Linked DNA regions of Homo sapiens: region 2 is linked to region 1. The links come from fine-mapping of genetic effects on gene expression. A gene starts in region 1. The other region holds a variant in brackets. All regions are shown on one strand. Distances are from middle to middle.

The links. PIP is the estimated chance that this variant, and not a neighbour inherited with it, causes the effect.
Region 2: its variant is fine-mapped to the expression of SPMIP4 in whole blood (INTERVAL, PIP above 0.99). The same link has a PIP of 0.9 or more in blood mononuclear cells, lung, monocytes, nasal epithelium and tibial nerve.

What each region holds. Positions count from the first base shown.
Region 1 is chr7:25,174,760-25,186,851 of GRCh38, reverse strand. It overlaps SPMIP4 (sperm microtubule inner protein 4), which reads left to right and starts at 6,498. Exons shown (of 10, transcript NM_138811.4): 1 at 6,498-7,190; 2 at 7,520-7,677. The coding sequence starts at 7,544. All of the region lies in intron 1 of LOC124901603 (a long non-coding RNA gene), which reads right to left. It overlaps LOC124901602 (a long non-coding RNA gene), which reads right to left and starts at 11,038. Exons shown (of 2, transcript XR_007060260.1): 1 at 10,955-11,038; 2 at 9,221-10,012. RefSeq lists silencers at 6,263-6,652, 6,713-6,992.
Region 2 is chr7:25,148,454-25,160,545 of GRCh38, reverse strand. SPMIP4 (sperm microtubule inner protein 4) reads left to right here. Exons shown (of 10, transcript NM_138811.4): 5 at 2,016-2,045; 6 at 5,354-5,535; 7 at 8,862-8,950. It overlaps LOC124901603 (a long non-coding RNA gene), which reads right to left and starts at 6,528. Exons shown (of 3, transcript XR_007060261.1): 1 at 6,479-6,528. The variant A/G (reference allele first, on the strand shown) is at 6,805.

The DNA.
Region 1 (12,092 bases):
TCTCATTGTATTTTACTGAATTGCCTTTTAGCTACACATGGAATTACAGATTCAATAACACAATGGTAATCCATACAAGTCCTCATTTACAGGGTTCCAGTCAAGTCTTCAAATGATGGGATTGTTCCGTGTAACACCAAGGATACAAAAAGTAATCTCACAGCAAACACAGCAAAGCATAGACAACCAAACAAAGACCCATGACTCGTGGCAGAATAAATGAACAACTTGTTTCTTTCACCAGACAGAAGACAGTCTTTTGCCTAGATCGGGAGTCACGCATTCCAGCCAGTGAGCTAGGAATGGGTGCTTTCCACATTTAAAGAGTTGTAAAATGAAAGAAGAACATGCAACAGAGACTGTATGATCGCATGTGGCCCGTGGAGCCTGGCACCTTCACTATCTGGGCCTTTGGAGAAAGAGCTTGCCAACTCCTGTACTGGATCCTAATGCTGAGGGCCTTTGTTCTAAAGTAAAAGAACAACAGAAAACCTGAGGAGGGAGTAGCTGGAGGAATTTGGGTAGAAGTAATAAAAACACAACCACTCTCTCACAACCACTCCCCTCCCCTAGAAGAGTAGCTCACATCCTACTTTCACTGTGAGGCCACTGCTTTTGTTTACCACAGCACAGACAGAAGGACAATTCACTCACACCCTCTTGTTTCCTCTGTGTTCTTGCTGACTTGCCGCAATTATTAAAAATGTTGGCCAGGCGTGGTGGCTCACGCCTGTAATTCCAGCACTTTGGGAGGCCGAGGCAGGCAGGTCACCAGAAGTCAGGAGTTCAAGACCAGCCTGGCCAACATGGCAAACCCCGTCTCTAATAATACAAAAATTTGCCGGGTGTGGTGATGCACGTCTGCAATTCCAGCTACTCAGGAGGCTGAGGCAGAAAAATCGCTTGAACCCAGGAGGCAAAAGTTGCAGTGAGCCGGATTGTGCCACTGTACTCCAGCCTGGGTGACAGAGTGAGACTGTGTCTCAAAAAAAAAAAAAAAAAAAACAACTCTGCACACCAAACCAAGAGGCTGCAAGTTGTACTGTGGGCTAAAAACCGAGTCTGCCACTAGAGTTGGCTTTCTGGAAAGCCAACTATTTTGAGATAGGAACAGTCTACAATGGGCAGTTTCTTCATGGTGAGCTGATTCGTGAACTCCTGTTACTTATGGCAATCACTGTGCTTGATCTTGGCACTGCTACCCAAGTACTCTGGTCTGGTGAATCTACAAGGTGTTTTAAAAAGACAGAAGTGGTAAGGGAGATGTAAGAGACAGGAAAAAGAGAGGAAAGGGGTATTTTATCTCTTTCAATGGGTTGATTTTCCTACAAAAAACGCCCACATACAACTGTGAATGTTTACAATTTCACAATGAAAAAAAGAGAAAATGTTTTCCACCTTTGCTGCCTATCTCTTTAAAGAATATTTATCTTAAATATTTTGTTTCAAGAAAAGACCTGGGGAAGTGATAATTTTCTAAGTACCATATGACCCAGCAGTCAAATTTGAGCCAGAAAAATGAAAACTAATGTTCACACAAAAACTGTCCAGAAATGTGTACCACAGTGTTACTCATAATAATAATCACAAAACTGGAAACAACCTCATTTCTTCCCATGGATGAATAAAGAAATTGTGGAACATCTGTACCATGGAACACAAGTCAGCAGCGAAAAGGAAGGAACTACTGACCCCAGCCGCACCCTGGATGCATCCCCAGAGAGTTATGATGAGCAAGAAAAGCCAATCCCAAAGGGCTCCCTGTTGTATGATTCAGTTGACATGACATTCTGGAAATGTCAGGTTTATGGAAATGGAGAAGGAGTCCCCGGTGGCTGGGGTTACAGAGCGAGTGGTGAGGGAGGAGGCGATGAAGATGCTGGGTACTTACCGCATCTTCCCTCCCTGACTAGGTATCACCATGCCCTGAGTACAGAATGTGACACCACAGGATGCTCCCGGACTGTCCTCATCAGCTGGAGCCCCCGGGGGACAGCATGTCTTCCTGTCAGTTGCATCTAGAAGTGCCATGCCCACCCTCTCTATCGAATACACGTTTCATCCATATTTGTGTGTGTGGATCAGTGAAGAAGAAACTTAAGTAGTGGAACTTAATACATATGTGGAAAACATATTCTACATAACTTCACTCAACCAGGCAGTAGGGATAGCACATGGGGCCATCTGTATATAGGTCATAGTTCAAAGCATTGAATCATGACAGAGGAATAGAGACTGACCACTGAGTCTTCTGAGCAGAGGTTTAAGATTAGAGAGAAAAAGGCTACCCAGAAGGAACTCAAATTCATGGGACAAAATGTTAGAATATCCATGTAGGAAGATGCAAAGAAAGATAAAAGGAAAGATGCCAGGGAGGCCACAAGGACAAACAACTGCATGTAACCAAGGGCACATGGCCGGGTCACCTCGCTAAAGGGTCCTGATGATCATGTTTCTAAATAGAAGAACCTTACATTGCTTTTCAGACATTTCCAAGGGAATGATATCAGAAGCACAAGAGTCTTGGTTAGGTGACCATGGACCCCTACAGCAAGAGTGCTGGCCCCAGTCGAGCACTTACCTCACTGATTATGACTCTCCATGGCTCCATGTCCCCATAGATTGTAGGTGCTAGGACAACCCCTGATGCATTCTAGGTAACTGTTTACTAAATAGCACATTTTATAAATGTGTGCATCAACGTCACTTCAGTGTTCACTACTAAATGACCACCTAGTTCCTTAGCTACTCAAGGCAAAAAAAAAATTATTATTGTTTTTCACACAGTAAATTTTTTATTGGAGGAGGAGAACATCTAAAATCTACATTCTTAGAAAAATTTTAGTATGCAATACAATATTATGAATATTATAATCCTTGTGCTGCACATTACATTTCTAGGCTTATTCAATTGATCATAGTTGACATGACTACAACCATAAAGACTGTTGAGATTACAATGCTCTTTAAAAATAACCCTCTTCAAGAAAAAAATTGAAATGACACCCACAAAAAAGCTGATTGCGTTTTTATAATAAACAACTATGAAAGAAAGAAAATATGTTTTGAGAAGAATTTAAAGTACTGAACTTAGGTTAAATTATTTAGTACCAAAAAAGTATTAAAGTGTAATTTAACTCATTTGTAGTTTAAAGTCAGCAGAATATACATACTTTTAATTGTCATCCTACTAAGAAGATACATATACTGAAATCAACAAGGCTTTAAGTTTTTCAATTTTTAAAGATGCATATTTTAACGTTACTGAGACACTTTCCAACACATCTTCTAAGCAAGGCACCAGACTCCAAATTGTTTTTTCATGTAAAAAATATTCACTGGGCCGGGTGCATGACTCACGCCTGTAATCCCAGCACTTTGGGAGGCCAAAGCAGACGGATCACCTAAGGTCAGGAGTCTGAGACCAGCCTAGCCAATATGGCAAAACCCCGTCTCTACTAAAAATACAAAAAATTAGCCAGGCGTGGTGGCGAGCACTCGTAATCCCAACTACTTGGGAGGCTGAGGCAGGAGAATTGTTTGAACCGGGGAGGCGGAGGTTGCAGTGAGCCAAAATCACACCATTGTACTCCAGCCTGGGCAACAGAGACTCTGTTTCAAAAAGAAAAAAAAAATCATGTTCCTGGTCTCTTCATTCATTTTACTGGTCTCTATAACAGACTTAAAAGAAAGGTTATAGACTGTAATTCATGCTTTATGTTATTATCTACCTCCTACTTATTCTTTACCTGAAGGTGAAAGGTCTAACTGTGATTTGGAATTGTCATCAACCCACAGTATTCTAAGCATATATTATTTTCATTGCCAAATTTCATCTTCCCTGCTTGAAGGATTACTAGCAAAATGAGGTGGTGACAAGATCAACATGTGAGAAGTCAAAAGAAGGCAATCTGAGGCTACTGGCCCCCTGGCCATGTTATACCTAAGAAATTCGTCACTTGAGCATCCCTGGGTAGGAGGCTACTTTGTGTTGTTGAGATCACATCCTGGCTGAGATGGAGTGAGTTAAATCACAAAAGCTAAGAGTAACGAGTGTTGGTCAAACAAATAGACCCAATCCTGATATCCCTGAAAATTTCAGATGGAGAAGCATTTTCAAAGAAAACAATTGTTTTACAACGATCTGACAATGAATTTTTCTTGCCGGTACATTTTATTTGAAAAACGATAAAGATAAAAATAATTACATTTATCTGCCTTTTACACTCATCTGACCTAAAATAAAATTTCAAATCCCCTAGAACCTGGAGGCTATCACATGGCATATCCTGATCATTCAACCTGGAGTTGACACACTTTCTCCGGTGTCACTACCATCCATGTACATACATGGCTAGTGATGCATCTTCATCAGATGCCTCTGATTAAATCTATCATGCTCAGTTATTCCTCCCAGGAAGAATCAAGCCATGGGAAAATAGGACTAAGGTTGAGGATGAGAAAAAGGTGAAGTATAGAAAGTACTGGAAGACTGGGGACATGAAATGGGCTGGGGAGACAAGGAATTTAATGGGAGATCCTGAACACAGAGGAGCAGAAAAGGGGCAAAAGCTTACAATGAACTACCAGAAATTGGAGGGGAAATAAAGATGTCAAAGATAAAAGCCAGTTTCACCTAATACACAACTCTGTCTCCAGCAGGATCTATTCCTCTAGGCTTAGTGGGTGGTAACTACTGGAAGGTCGGCAGAGGTGCAGGAACTAAGAAATAAACCAAGACTACAAAATTACCACTGTGCCTACTTCAATACACCTTTCTTCCCCCACTCCAGGTAACACTCACATAGAAGGCACAGCACAAAATGAATGCCCACTGGTTGGTTAGTAGAAAGTTGTAAAGTAGGCAGAGAATAGCAAAGGCACCATCATACTGTTACCAAGCAAAGGAGGCTCGCTGCCCGAGGCACTAGAAGTCAATACTATAACACTGGGTTTTTGATAAAATAAAAACTTTTATTGCATGTCAACCAACAAAGAAATAGGAAGTCCAGCTCAAATCTGTCTCCCTGTGCTGGCTTTAGGACAATTATTTTATTAGAAATGGTTTTGAGTGTGGATTCTGGGATTAGCAGGTGCTTGGTGGAAGGAAAGAGGAAGTCTGGAAAGTCCTTGCGCATGTGCTCTTATTTCTTCATGCTACCTAAGGGTTCCACGTGCAAATTCAGTGAGGAGTTAGTATGAAACATGGCAGTAGAAATTCAGCTGTAAGGTCAGCAAGCTGGATCTGTGCAGACTCTAGTTGGCCTTATATGTTCCAGTGGATTTCAGCCAGTTTTATTAACCTACAAGCCCAGGCATTTCAGCATTTCAGCAATTTGTTTCTTTTATCTGCCATCCTGTAAACTCAAGAATTTCTATGACTGTTTTCTTTAACTCTTTGGCACACAGTTTCAACGCCCTTCTTCTCAGAGGTGGTCATTCTCACCCTCACCTTCTGGTTCCTGCAGGCTCATTTCTAGCCTCCCACACTGTATTAGTCTTTTCTCACAATGCTGTAAAGAACTGCCCAAGACTGGGTAATTTATAAACGAAGGAGGTTTAGTTGACTCACAATCTCACATGGCTGCGGAGGCCTCAGGAAACTTACAATCATGGCAGAAGGCCACGGAGAAGCAGTTACCTTCTCCACAAGGGGGCAGGAAGGAAAAGTGCTGGGAGAAGGGAGAAGAGCCTCTTATAAAACCATCAGATCTCGTGAGAATTCACTCGCTATTACGAGAACAGCATGGGGGAAACTGCCCCCATGATCCAATTACTTCCACCTGGTCTCTCCTTTGACAAGCGGGGATTATGGGTATTACAATTCAAGATGAGATTTGAGTGGGGACACAAAGCCTAACCATATCACACATATACACACAACCTAACCTCCTCACATCCCATTCCTTGATGGGGTGGCAGGTGGCGAGGGGGGGGTGACATCCCTTATTGTCAGCCATCACAGGAACTCATGACCCTGTAGGTGCAGATTCATGGCTCACATTTGTATCTTTTGGGGAAAACTGAGGTAATCAAGGTGGGGCTAGGCCCTGGGGACGAGGCAAGTAAAGGACTTTGCCATGTCCGCACCCACCAGGGAAGGAGCAGAGACTCTGTTAGGGCGCCATGCCAGGGGCTGCAGTTTCAGAATCCTGCAGACTCCACCCTCTATCTGGCCACACTGTCCCCAATTTTTGCGAGGTGACCTGGGGAGGGAGGACAGGTCGGATGCTCCGACCTCACCAGGGACTCCACTGGACCGGAGCTCTTCCTCCTCCGCCCAGTCCACATGAGAGAGCTCCCTGGCCGGCCCTGAGACAGCTCCAGACCTGGTAGCCCTGGAAAAAGAAACTGGTATCGCCATCGCCGCCGCCGCTAGAGGGCGCCTGGGGGCGGGGCGCGGGTGGGGCAAGGCGGGGTCCGACTGGAGGCAGGGCGGTGAGCCGAGAGGGGCGGGGCAAGGGACCGGGAGGCGGGGCCAGGGGTCGCAAGGCGGAAGAGCCCCTCTCGCCTCCGACCCGGCGCCTCGCACTCCGTTCACTCTCGGTTCCTCTTCGCATTCTTGCCAGTCCCGTAGCGCTGGGCTGGTTTCCTCCGAGGTCTCTAAGAGCCTCCTACTGCGCCCCGCTCGCCGCCCGGAAGCCCCCAGCCCCTCAAGGACGCATCACCTAATGCCGCGGTCACGGCCACCGTCACAAGCGCCCCCAGCCCCACCCCACCCCGGCCTGCCCGCCGTCCTTCTCCCGCCCCCGCCCCTGCCTGCCAGCTCCACCGGGCCGTAGGTGCGGACGACCTCAAAATTCCTCGGCCCGCGAAGGCCGCCAGCTGCGGGGAGGGGAGGGGAGGCGCGGTCCCGCAGCGCCCCCAGGCTCATGTCCCAGGTATGTCCAGACCCCCGAGGCACCGCTTGCAGGGCAGTGACAGCCCGTGAGGCTCGGCCTCGACCCCTGGCACCCTTGGTCCCAGCTACGCCGGCTCCTGGCCTTCCCCCAAGTCCGAGAGAGAGGTGGGATTCTCCCCGACGCAGTTGGAAACCGGGAATCCCCTTTAGGGTCCCGTTCGTGCTGCACTACTGACTCCACCATCTGCAAAGGGATTCTTGTCCAGAATCCCCGAAGGCTTTAGGACAGCGCTTATTTTGTTGAATGAAGAGTCTCTAATTTTCGGAAAGACCACAGGCTAAAAGTCAAGTGAGTTTTCTTGAATAGTTATAGTTAAATTTAAGGCAGGAATTGAATGTCAGTTGATGGCCACAAAGTAGCGGACTGGTACGAACCTACTGGATGATCATTCTGGTGACTACTTGGAGGCACCGTCCACTTTGTGGATTTGTTTCAGTTGAAATTTATTTCCATAGAACTTATTTAGGTCTCTATTTATTACTGATTTGACGGCTTTCAGTGCAGAGGGAAGCCTGTGACGTCTGTGCAGCGTCAGGTTGAACAATTTAGCAGTGTAAAATGTGTTTTCTGCCTGCCTTGACTCGACAAGCCAAATGTGCCCTCCTTTTCTTTTCCAGGTTGTGCCTTTTTAGCCAAGAAGCATGGAAGTCATTCACGGCAGGCCCTACTGTTGCAGGGAGCTTGAAGGAGCTGACATACTGTCCAACACCTTTTACTCTAATGAATTGCACAACCCCCTCCAGACGGTTACTCGCCCAACTGCCTCAGAGGACAGGTAAAACAAAAACTAGAAAAAGCAAACAAGAAAAAGCAGTTTTAATGTATTCGTGTATTTTATTATGTGAGGAAAAACATTTATTGTTCTGGGGCTCTTCTGTTTCTTGTTTGTTTGTTTGTTTGTTTGTTTTTGAGACGGTGTCTCGCTCTGTCGCCCAGGCTGGAGTGTAGTGGTGCGATCTCGGCTCACTGGGACCTCTGCCTCCCAGGTTCAGGTGATTCTCCTGCCTCACCCTCCAGAGTAGCTGGGATTACAGGCATGCACCACCATGCCCAGCTAATATTTTTGCATTTTTAGTAGAGACAGGGTTTCACTATGTTGGCCAGGCTGTTCTCAAACTCCTGACCTCAAATGATCCACCCACCTCGGCCTCCCAAAGTGCTGGGATTACAGGCGTGACCACTGCGCCGGGCCGGGGCTCTTCTGCTTATCATATAATAGGGAAGGCAAAACGTGGCAATTATCTGAACCTTCAAGTGTCTGTAAGGAACTCGAGAAGTAAGTGGCTGTCTACTATAAAAGCCACACATCAAATTCATCCACTACATTCTAAAATCTTAGAATGGTCCGTTCCTTCATTGGGAAATTAATATGTTGTAAGCAAAGACTTTTATAAATAGTACTGTATTGGTTCCCTAACATGCCCTTCTACCATCTGCCCAAAAATACTCCCAGAATTTGCTGCTTATACTTGTGTAAATTTTTGCTTCACCAAATTCCCTGTAACACATTAATTATACATTATGATTTAATTTATGAAAAGCAGTTTGGTGATTTCTCAAAGAACTCAAAACAGAATTACCATTTGACCCAGCAATCCCATTATTGGATTCTAAGTTGTTCTTATAAGTTGTTCTATCAAAGGAATATAAGTTGTTCTACCATAAAGACACATGCACAAGTATGTTCATCACAGCACTATTCACAATAGCAAAGACATGGAATCAGCATAAATGACCATCAGTGGTTGACTGGATAAAGAAAACATGGTACATATACACCATGGAATACTATGCAGCCATAAAAAAACGAGATCATGTCCTTTGCAGCAACGTGGATGGAGCTGGAGGCCATTATTCTAAAGCAAACTAACACGGGAACAGAAAACCAAATATCACCTATTCTGACTTATAAGTGGGAGCTAAACATTGAGTACACATGGAGACAAAGAAGGGAACCACAGACACCAAGGCCTACTTGAGGGTGGAGAGAGGGAGGAAGGTGAGGATCAGAAAACTACCTCTTGGGTACTATGCTTATCACCTGGGTGACAAAATAATTTGTACACTGAACCACTGCAACATGCAATTTACCTGTATAATGAACCTGCATATGTCCCCCTGAACCTAGAAAAAAAGTTTAAAAAAAAAAATTACAATGAAAATAATTGCACCTATCTAGTGATTACTGTGTGTCAGCACTCTACCAAATGCTTTGTATGTAGTAATTCTTTTAATCCTCATGACAACCCTATAAGTACTACTGTTATCTGCATTTTACATATGAAATAACAGATACACACAAGTAATTTGCCAAGATCTTAGTGTCAGCATTTCCTGTATTGTATTTACTTGAATCATTTTGAGAAAAGGAAAAGGAAAAAACACCTCAAAACACCTGGACAGTGAAAAAATAGCCTGAGTGGTTGTCTACTTGTTTTGTGTTTTTTGTTTTTTTGTTTTTTTTTTATTAGACGGAGTCTCACTCTGTTGCCAGGCTGGAGTGCAGTGGCACAATCTCGGCTTACTGCAACCTCCGCCTCCTGGGTTCAAGCAATTCTCCTGCCTCAGCCTCCTGAGTAGCTGGGACTACAGGCACACACCACCTCGCCCAGCTAATTCTTTTGTATTTTTAGTAGAAATGGGGTTTCACTATGTTGGCCAGGATGGTCTCGATCTCCTGACCTCGTGATCCATCCGCCTCAGCCTCCCAATCATTTAAGAATTCTCTAGGAAACCAGACGGGAAGTCACCCAGCCTCAGTTTAAACTCTTCCAAAAAGGATAGCACTTCCACACCAGGCAGTCCATTCCATTTTTGAATGCTCCTGATTGTTAGATCATTTTCTTTCTAATGTGAACAATTTTTCCCTTGTAATTTCTGCCTGCTGATTCTGGTTCTTCCCTCTGAAGCTATGCAGAATAGTCATTCATCATCCCATGCTAGCAGCCCTTCAAGATCTGAAGATTCTCTTGTCCCATGTGAGAATTCTGTTTGCCAGACTAAACACTGATTCTCACAGATTCAGCTCCTTTTTCTTCTTGCGCTTAGCCTTTCACCATCTCGATCAGACTTCCACAGATCTTCTCCGGTTTACAAACATGCTCTTTATACTAATAAAGAAAAAGAATGATTTTTCCGTAATTATAAAACTAACACACATTCCTCATAATGTAGAAATCATAGAAATTTGTAAGGAAAACAAATTCTTTATTTTTCCAACAGAAAAATTATGAAAATGAAGCACAGGAAAGAAGCCCTCTATATTTCCTTTATCCAGAGATAATAACCACTGTGTTAACATCTTAATATGTGTCCTCTCCAATTTTTTTAAATGTAAAGATCATATTCAACATTTTTTAAATCAATTGCTATTTTCACTTAATGAAAAGAAATATTCTTGTATTGGAGGAAAAGGAGCTCTTGTCACTTCTGGGTCAGTCCTTGCTGCCCCTACTCCTCTACCATTGACCTGATTCACAAGAGTGGTTTTCAGCCCTAAATTCCTGTTCAACTCCAAGGGTTATCACATTAGGCAGAGCTTCCCTTGAGTCAAATAAAACCCTTAGTGGATTGTGTGTGATCTGGGAATGGGCAGTTGTCCCTGGCTCAAAAACAGCAATGTGAGGTTTTATATTTGGCCTAAAGGAATCCAAGAATTTAGGGCTGCCATATCTGAATGCACCATCAAAAAGCACTGTCAAAGGCTTTTCACTGAAATGTTGATCCCCTCTACCTAAACGGTCCTATAGTTGGTTAGTGATCAGCTCCAAAACCCTTAACTGGCATGAAATTTAAGAGAAGCACGTTTTTTGTTAACTGACTATAAAATTCAACACGATATATGGCCAACTATAAACTACAAAAAGGTATTATTTGAAGCTCTATCTAGGTATAACCATGCTCCTGGCTCCTAATAACTACAACTTGCTTTCCCTTTTATTTCACGTGAATTCTTTCCTTTCACAATCACCAGATTAAGAAAACCAGGATGATCATGTGTTCTCAGAACCCCTCCTCTTAACCCCCTCTTAAAAAGCAGCCAGACAGCTTACAAAAGAGTGTCTTTCCTCTCAGTGTTAGTGATGGAACGGCTCTGGACGGTGATAACAGGATACTGGTGGTAACTCTGTTCTATCATTGCTGAGCCTCACTTCTTCAGACCAAGTGCAGGGTCCGTGGCTCCCAATTTGAATCACAAGGTATCTCAACAGCAAAATAAAACAATACAAAACAGAAAGCCCCTGGTTTTTCAGGATTACCTTCATAATGGTAAGGGTGAACGTGAGCCCTAGCATACGTTTGCACTCAGCAGCTTAATTTTCTAAACACAGATGTACTTAAAGGGACACCCTTTTTCAATATCATGATGTATCCAGGTACAACTTAGATCATGTAGGCCATACCTACAACCTAGATGCAGCCATCATGGCACTCACTTGGCAGTTTTAACAGTGACGCAAAACGATTTCCTCACATCAGCCTACTTTTTTTTTCTTTTCACAATAGGTGAGGTGAATACAAAAATTAGCCAGGTGTGGTGGCTCACACCTGTAGGTCCCAGCTACTTGGGAGGCTGAGGTGGGAGGATCACTTGAGCCTAGAGGCAGAGGTTGTAGTATGCCAAGATCACACCACAGCACTCCAGACTGGGCAACAGAGCGAGACTCTTTCTCAAAAATCAAAACAAAATAAAACAATACAAAAATAGGTGACACGGCCTAGCTCCCCTGTTACCCAGGACTGGTCTACAGACAGGGTACTTCAAAATCACCTGAGGAGCTTTCTAGAAAAACAGATTCCCAGGCTGCCTCTATATATGGACATTCTGACTCCCCAGGTCTGAGGGGGTGCAAGGGAATCTGCATTTTTTAGTTTTTCAGCTTACATTGAGAACTACTGGGCTAGCAGCACTGAAAATATAAGAAAACCAGGACTATGGATCTGGCTTACCTGATGACCAAGAGCAAGTTAGTTGCTACACTTTAATTACTTTACTCAAGTGGATTTTTTGGGACAATTATGCTAGCCACTATTTTATATAAACTTGCTTGATCTCCATTAAAAATATTAAGTATATAAACAGGTGGTAATTTTTTCTCATTTCTTCTGTTGAAAATTTAACTGGCAGGAACAGCTACTCAAAATCATCAAGATTCCTATCCTCTTTTTCATTCAGCTGACTTCTCCTTA
Region 2 (12,092 bases), 26 kb after region 1:
GGGTGCATCACCTGAGGTCAGGAGTTCAAGACCAGCCTGGCCAACATGGCGAAACCCTGTCTCTACTAAAAATATAAAAATTAGCTGGGCGTGATGGCAGGCGGCTGTAATCCCAGCTACTAGGGAGGCTGAGGCAGGAGAATCACTTGAACCCAGGAGGCGGAGGTTGCAGTGAGCCGAGATCACGCCATTGCACTCTAGTCTGGGCGACAAGAGCAAAACTCCATCTCAAACAAACAAACAAATAAATATTAAACACGACAGCATAGAAGTAATAATGGAACTATCACTTCTTTATTAAGAAGTACTAGTTGTTGATAGGTAAAAATTTAATATAGAAGTTAGCCACTAGATGGCGCCAAAAAGACAAAATTTGTGGTTGTCTCGGTTTATCCCTTTGGTGATTTTTGCAAAGCAGATGTGAAGGGTGGCAGTAAAATTAATGGGCTGATTTAGGTCAAGGAAGAGGTGTCTCAGCATTTGTTACTTTCATTTTATCTTTTCAGATCTTGAAGTTTTAAAAAAGATTTTATATTTTAAATTTATTTTTTTTTTTCATTTCGAATCAAATCAAAATGGCATATGCTTTTAGGCATATGCTTATCAATATTGTAGTGGAATTTGTCACATAAGAATAATTTTAGATGCTAGCTTAATGTATTATATATAGTTGCCAATCTATTAATAACAACTCTAGATTCCTTGGATTCATATATTCATCACTTCCCTGCCCTTTGTGCCCCCACCATCTTTCCAACTCAGTGATGTTGATGGAAGATAGAACATGCTTTTTTTAGTTTCGTGCCCACAGATTTAGAGTTGAAATTTAAAAAGATATAAACTTTTATAGTTCATGAGAGTCAGGTGTTTATAATACATTACAGGATAATAAATTTATATGGCTTACATGCCACTTTCTAGGGAGTATCTGCTAGCATGGAGGAACATCTAAAAAATTAAACAGTGTATTCAATTTTACTGACTTTTACTATCAAATTGATAACATTCTGTTCATTTTTCACACCTGGAATCTTTCAGAATTTTATTTGCATAGGCTGAAACGAATTGTTGAAATCCAATGTAGGTGGATGATTACCCGTCTTTAGTCGACTTTTTTCCAGGGCTACAGGATTATTTCTTGGCATGCAAGGTTCGGAGTAATTAGTAAATGCACAGCCTTGGAATGAACTGCTTCAGAAAAGGCATGCTTCCAGGAACTTGGTCAGTTTTGTTCTATTCCCTCTGCTGACCGGGCAACATTTACTATCATGAGAGATCAGCAACACAGAGCAAAGGTAGAAAGCATACATGGTACTTAAATATCCTCTCCAGCTGGGCCACACTCGCGTCACTTTAGGCTATGAAATTGCACCCCATGTATAACGTCAGGCTTCCTCAGAGCACTCTGGCTACTGCCTGACTATGAGAGTAAAGGTCAGAAAGAACCAGAGCTCTCTTATCATTAGAAGTAGTCATCCCTTGTATCTTCACCACAAATGGAAAATGCAGAAACAGTGGTGAGGTTAGAATAAATGGATGGAAAAATTAATCAACAGACAACTGAGATAAGGAAACAACATATGCCTGTCTTGTCAATATTCAGGAATCCAGAAAGTTAATCAAGAACATTATCTTAATGACATTACAGTTTGAAAATGGGGTATATCATTATTATTATTTTTTTTTTTTTTGAGACAGACTTTTGCTCTGTCACCCAGCAACCTCCACCTCCTGGGTAATCCTGAGTAGCTGGGATTACAGGCATGCACCACCATGCCTAGCTAATTTTTTTTGTATTTTTGGTATTTTTGGTATTTTTCTATTTTGTATGTTGCCCAGGCTGGTCTCGAACTCCTGAGCTCAAGCGATCCGCCCACCTTGGCCTCCCAAAGTGCTGGGATTACAGGCATGAGCCACCATGCCCAGCCTATATCATTAATCAAGTTTCTAATAGGGATATAAACCTTTAAAAGCCCTCAATATAAGTTAGAACTTGTTTCCTGTTTTTATTCTAGGATACCCAAGCCGCCTAATTCAACAGTAGGGTAAGTAAATAACTTATATTTTCCTTCTCTGTTATAATCAAAGAAAAAAAAATTGACATTTCCTATGTCTTAGAAGTGTGAAAACAAGTGAGACTTCCCATGAAAACGTTTCTTTTTTTTTTTTTTTTTTTTGAGACAGAGTCTCACTTTGTCGCCCAGGCTGGAGTACAGTAGTGCCATCACAGCTCACTGCAGCCTTGACCTCCCTGGGATGAGGTGATCCTTCCACCTTCACCTCCCAAGTAGCTGGGACTACAGGTGTGCACCACTATGCCTGGCTAATTTTTGTAATTTTTGTAGAGATGGGTTCTTGCTATGTTGCCCAGGCTGGTCTTGAACCCCTGGGCTCAAGTGATCCGCCCACCTCGGCCTCCCAAAGTACTGGATCACAGGCGTGAGCCACAGTGCCTGGCCTGAAAACTATGTCTTAACAGTTGGAAGGAAAGGCTGGTACAAGTCCAGGGTAACATTACTTTGATTTCTCTCCTGTTATATCCCCTGAAAATCTTTTTTAGTAAATGTTTTATTTTCGTATAATTTTAGGTTTATAGAATTATTAGAAGATAGTGTGGAGAGTTCCCATATACATCACACGCAGCTTCCCCTATTGTTAACATCTCACATTAATATGGCACATTTGTCACAATTAATGAAACATTGCTGATGCATCACTGTGACCCAAAATCCATGCTTTATCCAGATTTCCTCAGTTTTTCCTTCATGTCCTTCTTCTGTCCCAGGATCCCATCCAGAGTACCGCATTACATTCAGTCACCATCTCTCCTTAGGTTCCTCTTGGCTGTGACAGTTTCTCAGACTTCCCTTGTTTTAATGACCTTGACAATTTTTAGGATTATTGGTTAGATATTTTGTAGAATGCCCCCAAATTGGGCTTTGACTGACATTTTTCTTATGGTTAGACTGGGATGATGTATTTGTGGAAGGAAGACCACAGAGATAAAGTTCTGTTTTCATCGCATCGTAGCAAGGGTACATGCCGTTGGCATGATCTATCCCTGGTGATGTTAACCCTGACTGCCCGGCAGAGGTGTCCTCAGCAGGTTTCCCCGCTGCACACACACTCTTTCTTTCCTCCTTTCCACACTGCACTCTAGAAGAAGTTCTCTGTGTGTCTGTGTGCAGCCCACACTTAAGGCATCTGGATTTATACTCCACCTTCTTGAAAGCAGACTACCTGCATAAATTATTTGGCATTCTACATGGGAGATGTATCGATTCCACTCCATTTGTTTATTTATTCAATCACTTATTTCTCTCAGTATAGACTCATGGAAATTTATTTTGTGCTTTAGTACTTAGGTAGCAATCCAATACCACTTTCTTTTGTTACTAAGATTGGCAATGAGGAGCTCTTTGAGTTCGCTCCTATATTCTTTTGACATTTCCCCATCATCGTGGGGTTTTGGCTTTCTTTTTTTTTTCCTTTTAGCATTTCCTTTCTTTCTGTCACTCTGCAATAATCCAGGCTCATCTTATATAATAGCTTCCAGAGTGGCCGGGCGCAGTGGCTCATGCCTGTAATCCCAGCACTTTGGGAGGCCGAGGCAGGTGGATCACAAGGTCAGGAGTTCAAGACCAGCCTGGCCAACATGGTGAAACCCCATCTCTACTACAGATACAAAAAATTAGTTGGGTGTGGTGGTGAGCACCTGTAATCCCAGCTACTTGGGAGGCTGAGGCAGGAGAATCCCTTGAACCTGGGAGGCGGAGGTTGCAGTGAGCTGAGATCCTGCCATTGCACTCCAGCCTGGATGACAGAGCAAGACTCTGTCTCAAAAATAATAGTAATAGTAATAATAACTCCCAGAAACCCTGACTCCTTTGATTGGGGACAGGTGTTAGAAGCCGAGATCTGAGCACCCAGTATCCTCCGTGCCACAGGAGTCCTCTATCAAGCTTAACAGAAATTATTAAGCTGCCATTTAAAAAATTGTGTTTCAGCTAAAGACCTATTCAAAAGGCTATTAAAATTAACTTCTAGGTTTTTTTGGTCTTTCTATTTTTTAAAAAACGACAAAGTGAAGAACCCTTGTCTTGAGCTTTTCAAATTCTCTTCATAAACAGTTTGAAAAGTAAAGTCCTTTTTGTTAGGTCATATTTCTTGGATTCACCTTTCTGCTTGTAGCCTGGCAAGTTCCAAGGTGGGAGGCCGGAAGTCTGAGATGAAGACCTCAGCAGGGTTGGTTCCTTCTGAGGACTGTGATAGAGACTCTGTCCCGTGCCTCTCCCCTGGCTTCTGGGCTTTGCTGGTGATCTTTGGCACTCCTTGGCTTGTAGATGCATCATCCCGATCTCTGCCTTATCTTCACATGGCATCCTCCTCAGGTGTTTGTCTGTGTCCAACTTTCCCTTTCCTAAAAGGATACCAGGCATCTTGGGTTAGGGGCCCACCCTGCTCCAGTATGGAATAACTCGGTCTTAACTAAGTATATCTGTAATGACCCTATTTCCATACAAGGTTACAATATGTGGCCCTGGAGACTAGGATTTCAATATATGGATGAGGGCGGAAGGGAGGAATTCAACACATAAACACTTGGTCTTGCTTTTTTCTGCTTAATTTTCTTGTTATGAATAACATTTCTCTATCCCATGGACTTCCTAATTTTGCTTTTCTTCTAGTTTAGACAGCTCCCACATGGTTTTTTTTTAACCTCTGCCAGTTCTCCAAATGATAGGAAAATTATATCCCTATGGTCTCTTTAACATGTTTATTTTTTCCTTCAGTGTGCTAGCTGTTTTTGGCTTTTTGATTTTGAAGCAGTACTGTGTATATAAACAGGGGTTATATTTTGTTGATTGTTGATTGTTGATTGATTGCTTAAAGAAACAGATGGCCTGGGTTGAAAGTTCATTCAAAGATGGTTAGAGATCACTTTGCTGAAGCAGAATGCCCAAAACAATTCCTGGGAGCCTCTTAAAATAAGACACAGTAATTAAAAGCAACTATACCATTCTACAAACACAAAACTCATTTATTTTTTGCTTTATATTTTTTATACGAGTTATGAAACTTACTCACTGACAAAGAATTGGGCATGATTTATTTTAAAATTAAATTTAGTTTTGTCTAGCAAAATTAAGAAAATGTCCTGTTTTGTGGTATACATTCCAAGAGAATGCTAATTCCATGAGCACAGGGACATTGACTCACTGTCCTATCCCCCAGCATTAGAACAGTTTCTGCCATTTAAAAAAGGGTCCCAATAAATTTTTGATGATTAATTTTTTCAACCATACTTCTTTCTGTTCTTTTCATTTTGTTTTGTTTCCTCAATAAATCTTAGAGAGATCTGCTTGCCATATCCAATTGAACACCCCTACCACACACACATCTGTCGCGGCGCCATGTTCCCCACCTTCACGTCACCTGAGGACCTCTACACGGGCATTAAAGCCCGCACCCAGCAGCCCTTTCCTCCCACGGTGCCAACCAAGGCTTATGATTCAACAGTTTTGAAGACAAGAGGTAAAATGTGACCTGGAATCAGAACTGTATTAATTCTTATTATTGGGATTTCTTCAATAATAAAATTAAAGCAAGGAGCACAAAGGACTCAAGTCACAAATGTGTGACTCAATAGATCAGGAAACTTGTTCACAGCTGCGACTTTACAAATCAGCTGGCGCGCCACCATGGACCCATCAAATCAGACTCTCTGCAGGTGCTCCCAAACTTTCCCCTTGACACAGCCTCTCATGTTACAATCAGAAACCAAAACGTTGTAGAATTGGTGGTTTTTATTCCACTTCTATTTTCTATTTTTATTTCTTTCCTGCTCTCACGGTTTAGCTTTTAAAAATTTCATCCTAGCCCAGGTGATCAGCACAAGGGACAGTGTTTGCATCAATCACAGAGTCTGGACGTGGATGCAGCAGTGATAGAATTGAAAGATCCCCATTGAAATAAGATGCAGAAAGCAATGGGAGTAGTTTGTTCAGTCCTTCTTAACACCCTGGAGCAGGTTCTCCCAGCTGCAAACCTTGGAGTCTTTGTGAATGTGTTTTATCAGGAATCCCGTACACTAGTCATCGAATCTCTCCCACACTAGACACCTCGGTCTTTGCTGAGGAGTCCTACACATGTGCGTAAACAGAGAGGCCACCTCTGGAGAAAGAGTGAAAACACTTGAGAGAGGGACAGAAATGATACATGGTAGGCAAAGACAAATATTTGTTGAGTGCATTTAGGTGAGGTAGAAAAGACTCAAGAATTGTCCTATCCTGCAGTTCCTCTATACATGAATATTTGGACCAAAATGCAAGGACAGAATATTGCCATCGTCAGCCTCAACCTCGGTGTCTTATTAGCAGACAGTAACGTTTTGAAAGCTAACATAGTGGAATATGTAAGAGCATGGATTCTAGAGTCAGACTGCATGAGTAGAATTCTGGATCTGCCACTTACTCACCTGCGGTCCATGGGAGAGTTTCTGAACTCCTCTGTTCTGCTTCGCAGTCTGCAAAATGGGAATATTATTAATAGAACCTACTTATCAAATAACAGAGATAAATGTTAGCAGTTATTCTCTTACCCTGCTAGCGTATAATGACTGCAGTATGTGTGTACCATGCTGAACTTTCCCATTGCCTCTCAGACTAGGCAGCATTGGAAAAAGGCAGTGAAAGCTGTATCAAGTATACTGGCTGTTAGTATCGAGCACCATGCTTAGCTCTATAGCAGAAGTGGGGAGAGATGGTGCCATGCAAAAGAACTATAAATGTTCTAAAGGAAATG[A/G]TAAGTATGATACATAAACAAGTAAAATTTTTATGACTTTGTTACGTAAATTGTCAAAGTAGATTTCTTTTTCTCAATCCTGAATTCAGTAATTTCTGAAATTATCTGAAGTACACATAGTTAGCAAGAAATCACAGAAATATGTGTTGAATTCATAACAACACTTTTTTTTTTTTTTGAGACGGAGTCTTGCTCTGTTGCCCAGGCCTAGAGTGCAGTGGCACTTTCTGGAACCTCTGCTTCCCGGGTCCAAGTGATTCTCCTGCCTCAGCCTCCCAAGTAGCAGGGACTATAGGCACGTGCCACCACACCCACCCACCCACCTAGTTTTTGTATTTTTAGTAGAGACAGGGTTTCACCATGTTGGCCAGGCTGGTCTCGAACTCCTGACGTCAAGTGATCTGCCCGCCTCAGCCTCACAAAGTGCTGGGATTACAGGCATGAGCCACCATGGCCAGCCCATAAAAACACTTTTCAGTGCAGTAACATAAGGGACTGAAAAAACAAGTTGTCATCTTAATTTCCTGCTCTTCCAAGCCTCTACCTCTCTCCAACCATTCAGTCACTATTAGGGAATTTTTAAAAGATGAGCATCCTCTAACAACCCTTATAAAAAAATCTTTCCAGGAACTAGTACAGCATTAGGTTTCTACTCTTCCACTTATTTTAATTCTTCTTTATTAGAACTAAGAAGCATGGGCCAGGTGTGGTGGCTCATGCCTGTAATCCTAGCACTTTGGGAGGCCAAAGTGGGCAGATCACTTGAGGCCAGGAGTTCGAGACCAGCCTGGGCAATATGGCAAAACTCTGTCTCTAGTAAAACTACAAAAATTAGCCAGGCCTGGTGGTGCATGCCTGTAGTCCCGGCTAATTGGGAGGCTGAGGCATGAGAATCTCTTGAACCCAGGAGGCAGAGGTTACAGTGAGCTGAGATCATGCCACTGCACTCCAGCCTGGGTGACAGAGAGACTCTGTCTCAAAAAAAAAAAAAAAGAGAGACAACGAAGGGAGGGAGGGAGGGAGGAAAAGGAAGAGAGAGAGAAAGAGGAAGGGAGGGAGGAAGGAAAGAAGGAAGGAAGGAAGGAAAGAAGTTAGGAAGTTAAGAGTGCAGACTCTAGAATCAGATTGCCTGAGTTTGAATTCTACCTTTGAGATGTGGACAAATCACTTATTCTCTCTCCGCTTCAATTTCTTTATTCACTAAAGTTGGAATAACAGTACCTTTCTTATAGTAATGTTAAAAATTGCATGTGATGATGTATATAAAACAGTACAGTGACTGGCACATGGTAAGTGTTCAATAAACACCAGCCCTTGTTCTTATTACATATGAAGATGGGTGTTCAGAACATTCTTTAACTTGAAACTTATCACGAGAGCAAAGCGAGCCATGCTGTTTGGTAAAGCTTATCAGATATAAAACAAAATCTAAAAAGCTGTATTGTTTAAGATGTTCCCTTTCAATACCTTTTTGGTAAGCAAGTACTAACTCAGTTTCAGAAAACTTGATATTTAGGCAGAGAAAAGCCAAAACAGATAATATAGAAATGTATTTGTTGAGCCCCCAGAGGCCAGAAAAAAAGATCAGAAAGAGGATCCAGGAACACTTACTATTTACCTAAGATCTCTCTCATTAAGAAGAAAGGTGAAGTACTAGTGACTCCTATTACTACTGAGAGCACTAGGGTTAAAGACTCATTCACACTCTGTGTGGCCCACATGCTGCTCCTGCACATGCTCAAGAATTCAAGAGCAACAAGCCAAGTGTGGTGGCCTGCCCTGCCCTGTAGTCCCAGCTACTCAGGAGGCTGACGTGGAAAGATCATTTGAGCCCAAGGGTTCAAGTCCAGCTTGGGAAACATAGCAAGACGCTATCTTAAAAAAAATAAAAAATAAAAAGAATTCAAGAGCAAGCTGAATCTCTCTAAAGCTGTAACTACATAGGTAAAATGTACACCAACATCCATCTCTACCTTGTATTATCTCATTTCTATTTATTGTACCTATTAATCCTCTAAAAGACTGTTCTTATTTATTGCTTTTCCTGAAATTTTCAGGTAATCCTTATAGATATGAACTGATTGATATTCCCATGGATTCAAAGAAGAAAGCACTGACTTGGCCAGGTCAAGGTGTATATTATGATGTAAGTATCTTTTTAAATGTGTGTTTAAAGGAAAGTAACAAATATTTTTAGTCAATACCTTTATAAAAATCTAGGCTTGACATGGTGGCACATGCCCATAATCCCAGCACTTAGGGAAGCCAAGGTGGGCAGATTGCTTGAGGTCAGGAGTTTGAGACCAGCCTGACCAACATGGTGAAACCCTGTCTCTACTAGAAAATACAAAAATTAGCCGGGTGTGGTGGTGCATACCTGTAGTCCTAGCTACTCGGGAGGCTGAGGCATGAGAATCGCTTGAACCTGGGAGGTGAAGTTTGCAGTGAGCCAAGATCATGCCACTGCACTCCAGCCTGAGCAACAGAGTGAACTCTGTTTAAAAAAAAAAAAAAAAATCTAAAAGTTTATTTTCATTTTCTATCTGAATGTAAAATTTGAGATTTTGACTATGATTTACATTTTTCAGTTTTCTTAGCTGATTTCATGTGCTGTTGGTAGTTATGGAACATTCCACAGTTACCAAAAAAAAAGATTGCCCCCAGGAAGATGGTGGAGGAGGGCTGCATTTCTCACACTGTGTTCCTCCAACCCTATTCTTACAACTTATAATACCTCCAGTCACTCCAAATATGCAGAGAGTAAATGGGAGATTTCCAGAAAGATTTGCAAGCTATTATTGTTCCAGCCATTATTATCATATTGGTGTCAAGTTTAAAATGAAATAAAGCAATAGCCACCATTTATTGAGAAATTGCTACACATCTAACCACTCTAAATACATCATTTAACCCTTTCAATAACCTCCTAAGGTTAGCATCATCATTTCCATTTTATAGATAAGGAAACTGTGACTCAGAATTTGTGACTATGTCATGATCACAGAAATCTGGTTTGTGAAGTTCTAGTCTCTGACCTTAACCTCTGTCCCATAACTCCACATGGATAAAAAGAGAAAATTATAAATCAAGAGGGAAAATATCTAGACGTTTGAAAATAATAATAGCTAACATGGTTGGTGAGAAGCAGTGCCAAGTGTTCTCCATATATTATCTCTTGGCATCCAGCAATCCATGAGATAGGCAAGTGATAATTTTGGGAGGTTGAAAACATTTGAATTTTACCTGGCAAACCACTGTGACAGGCCCAGCATGTGGTCATCGCCATGTCACAGAGTCATCTATAAAGTAAGTCATTTCCCGTTTGTTTTTTTATAGTTAAATGTCAAAAAGAAGTCCTAACGAAGCGTCTGTTTTACTGGATCTCTTTCAGTTTTTAAGCAAAATCTATATCTAAACAACCCAGAAATATGAGAGTTATTCTAGAACCCATCCTATCATTACATGTTCTTATAGCCAAAGGCTCCAGATCTGTAGCTAAGTTTCTTCCTAGTCATTAAAATCCTGTTTTCCTCATGTCACATTCCTTGGCAGCCATCCTGAATAGCTCCCCTCTGCCTGAGTGTAAATCCCTATGCCTTAACTGAGGTGCAGAGACCCCTCAGGATCTGCCCTTACCTCCAGCCTGCAGCCTGGCCCCACCCACTGGTTCCCAAACAGGTTCATGCCATTTCCCTTCCTGGAATGCCCTCCTCCCAAGGCCTCTCTGCCCAACACTTGCTAATTCAAGGCTCAGCTCAACCCTCTTTGTTTCTGTTATGTAGCAAAGAGAACCAGGTCAGGAGGCCTGTGTGCTTGCTGGTCACTCCTCTGTTGCCATTTACTGTGTGAGTGATACTAGGCAGATTATTTCCCTTTTCTGAGCTTCAATTCATAAAACGTATCTGGGTAATTTCACTAAAAATCTGTCCTGTAAATTTCACAAGATAAGAGGATCATATGAAAGATTCAAAACTAGAAAATACTATAATTTATAAGGCATTATTATTACTCCAGCAGCAGAAATGATATCTCCCTCATCTGACTTCTGCCACACATACTGTAACCAGTAACTTTTCACGTATTTCATATTTCATCAATTAAATTATGAGTTATTTGAGAACAGAATGTGTTATGTGTATATCCCCACAGTGCATTGTACATAAATATTTTTGGCTGATTTATTTATTTATTTCTTATTTCTGATGATTAATCCCACTTTCTTAATCTTTATTAACTGCTCTTAATTTTCAACCTTTCACATTTTCTTCTGGCTCATCCCTAACTCTAATCAAGTTTTGCATTTCCCTGGACAAAGAAGTAAAAATAAAATAGATGCTGAGCTTCGTGGGAGTAACTCATGACTCACCTTTTTTTCTCTCTAATCTCTAGGATAATACCCTATACTTGTCCTTCCTATTTTTCCTGCCTTTTGTCATTTAATTGGGGAGGTAATCTACAGTGTTCTTTATCTACAATGTTCTATTCCTATTAAAGGATTTTTTTTTAAGAGATGAAGTCTCATTATGTTGCCCACTAACCAGAAAGGGGGAATTGTTAAGTATAGCCTACAGCTACCTCCTCATGTCTTTTAAGTTTGGCCTAAAGATTTCTCCATACAGAATGAACTGCAGCCTAACTGGATGCATAAACAGACTGTAACCTACTCTTGTGCCAATCACCTAGTTTTGGCCAATCAAAGGCAGCCAACTGTTCAAACCGTGTTCAAATAAGACAAACATTAAGGTGTAACCAATCTGGCTGTTTCTGTGTCTCACTTCTGTTTTCTATAGGTCACTTTCCTTTTTCTGTCCATAAACCTTCTTCCACCACCTGGCGGCGGCAGAGTCTCTGAACCTATTTTGGTTTGGCGACTGCCCAATTTATGAGTTGGTTTTTGTTTAATTAAATGCTTTAAATTCTAAAATATTAAATAAAAATGAGAAACAAAAGAAAAAGAGATGGCCAGATGCAGTGGCTCACGCCTGTAATCCCTTTGGGAGACACTTTGGGAGGCCAAGGCAGGTGGATCAGTTGAGGTCAGGAGCTTGAGACCAGCCTGACCAACATGGCGGAACACTGACTCTACTAAAAATACAAAAATTAGTTGGGCATGGTGGGGCATGCCTGTAACCTCAGCTACTCAGGAGGCCGAGGCAGGAGAATCGCATGAACTCGGGAGGCAGAGGCTGCAGTGACCCGAGGTGGCACCACTGCACTCCAGCCTGGGTGAGAGTCAGACTCTGTCTCAAAAAAAAAAAAAAAAAGAGGCAGATTCTGTCTCATGCTGC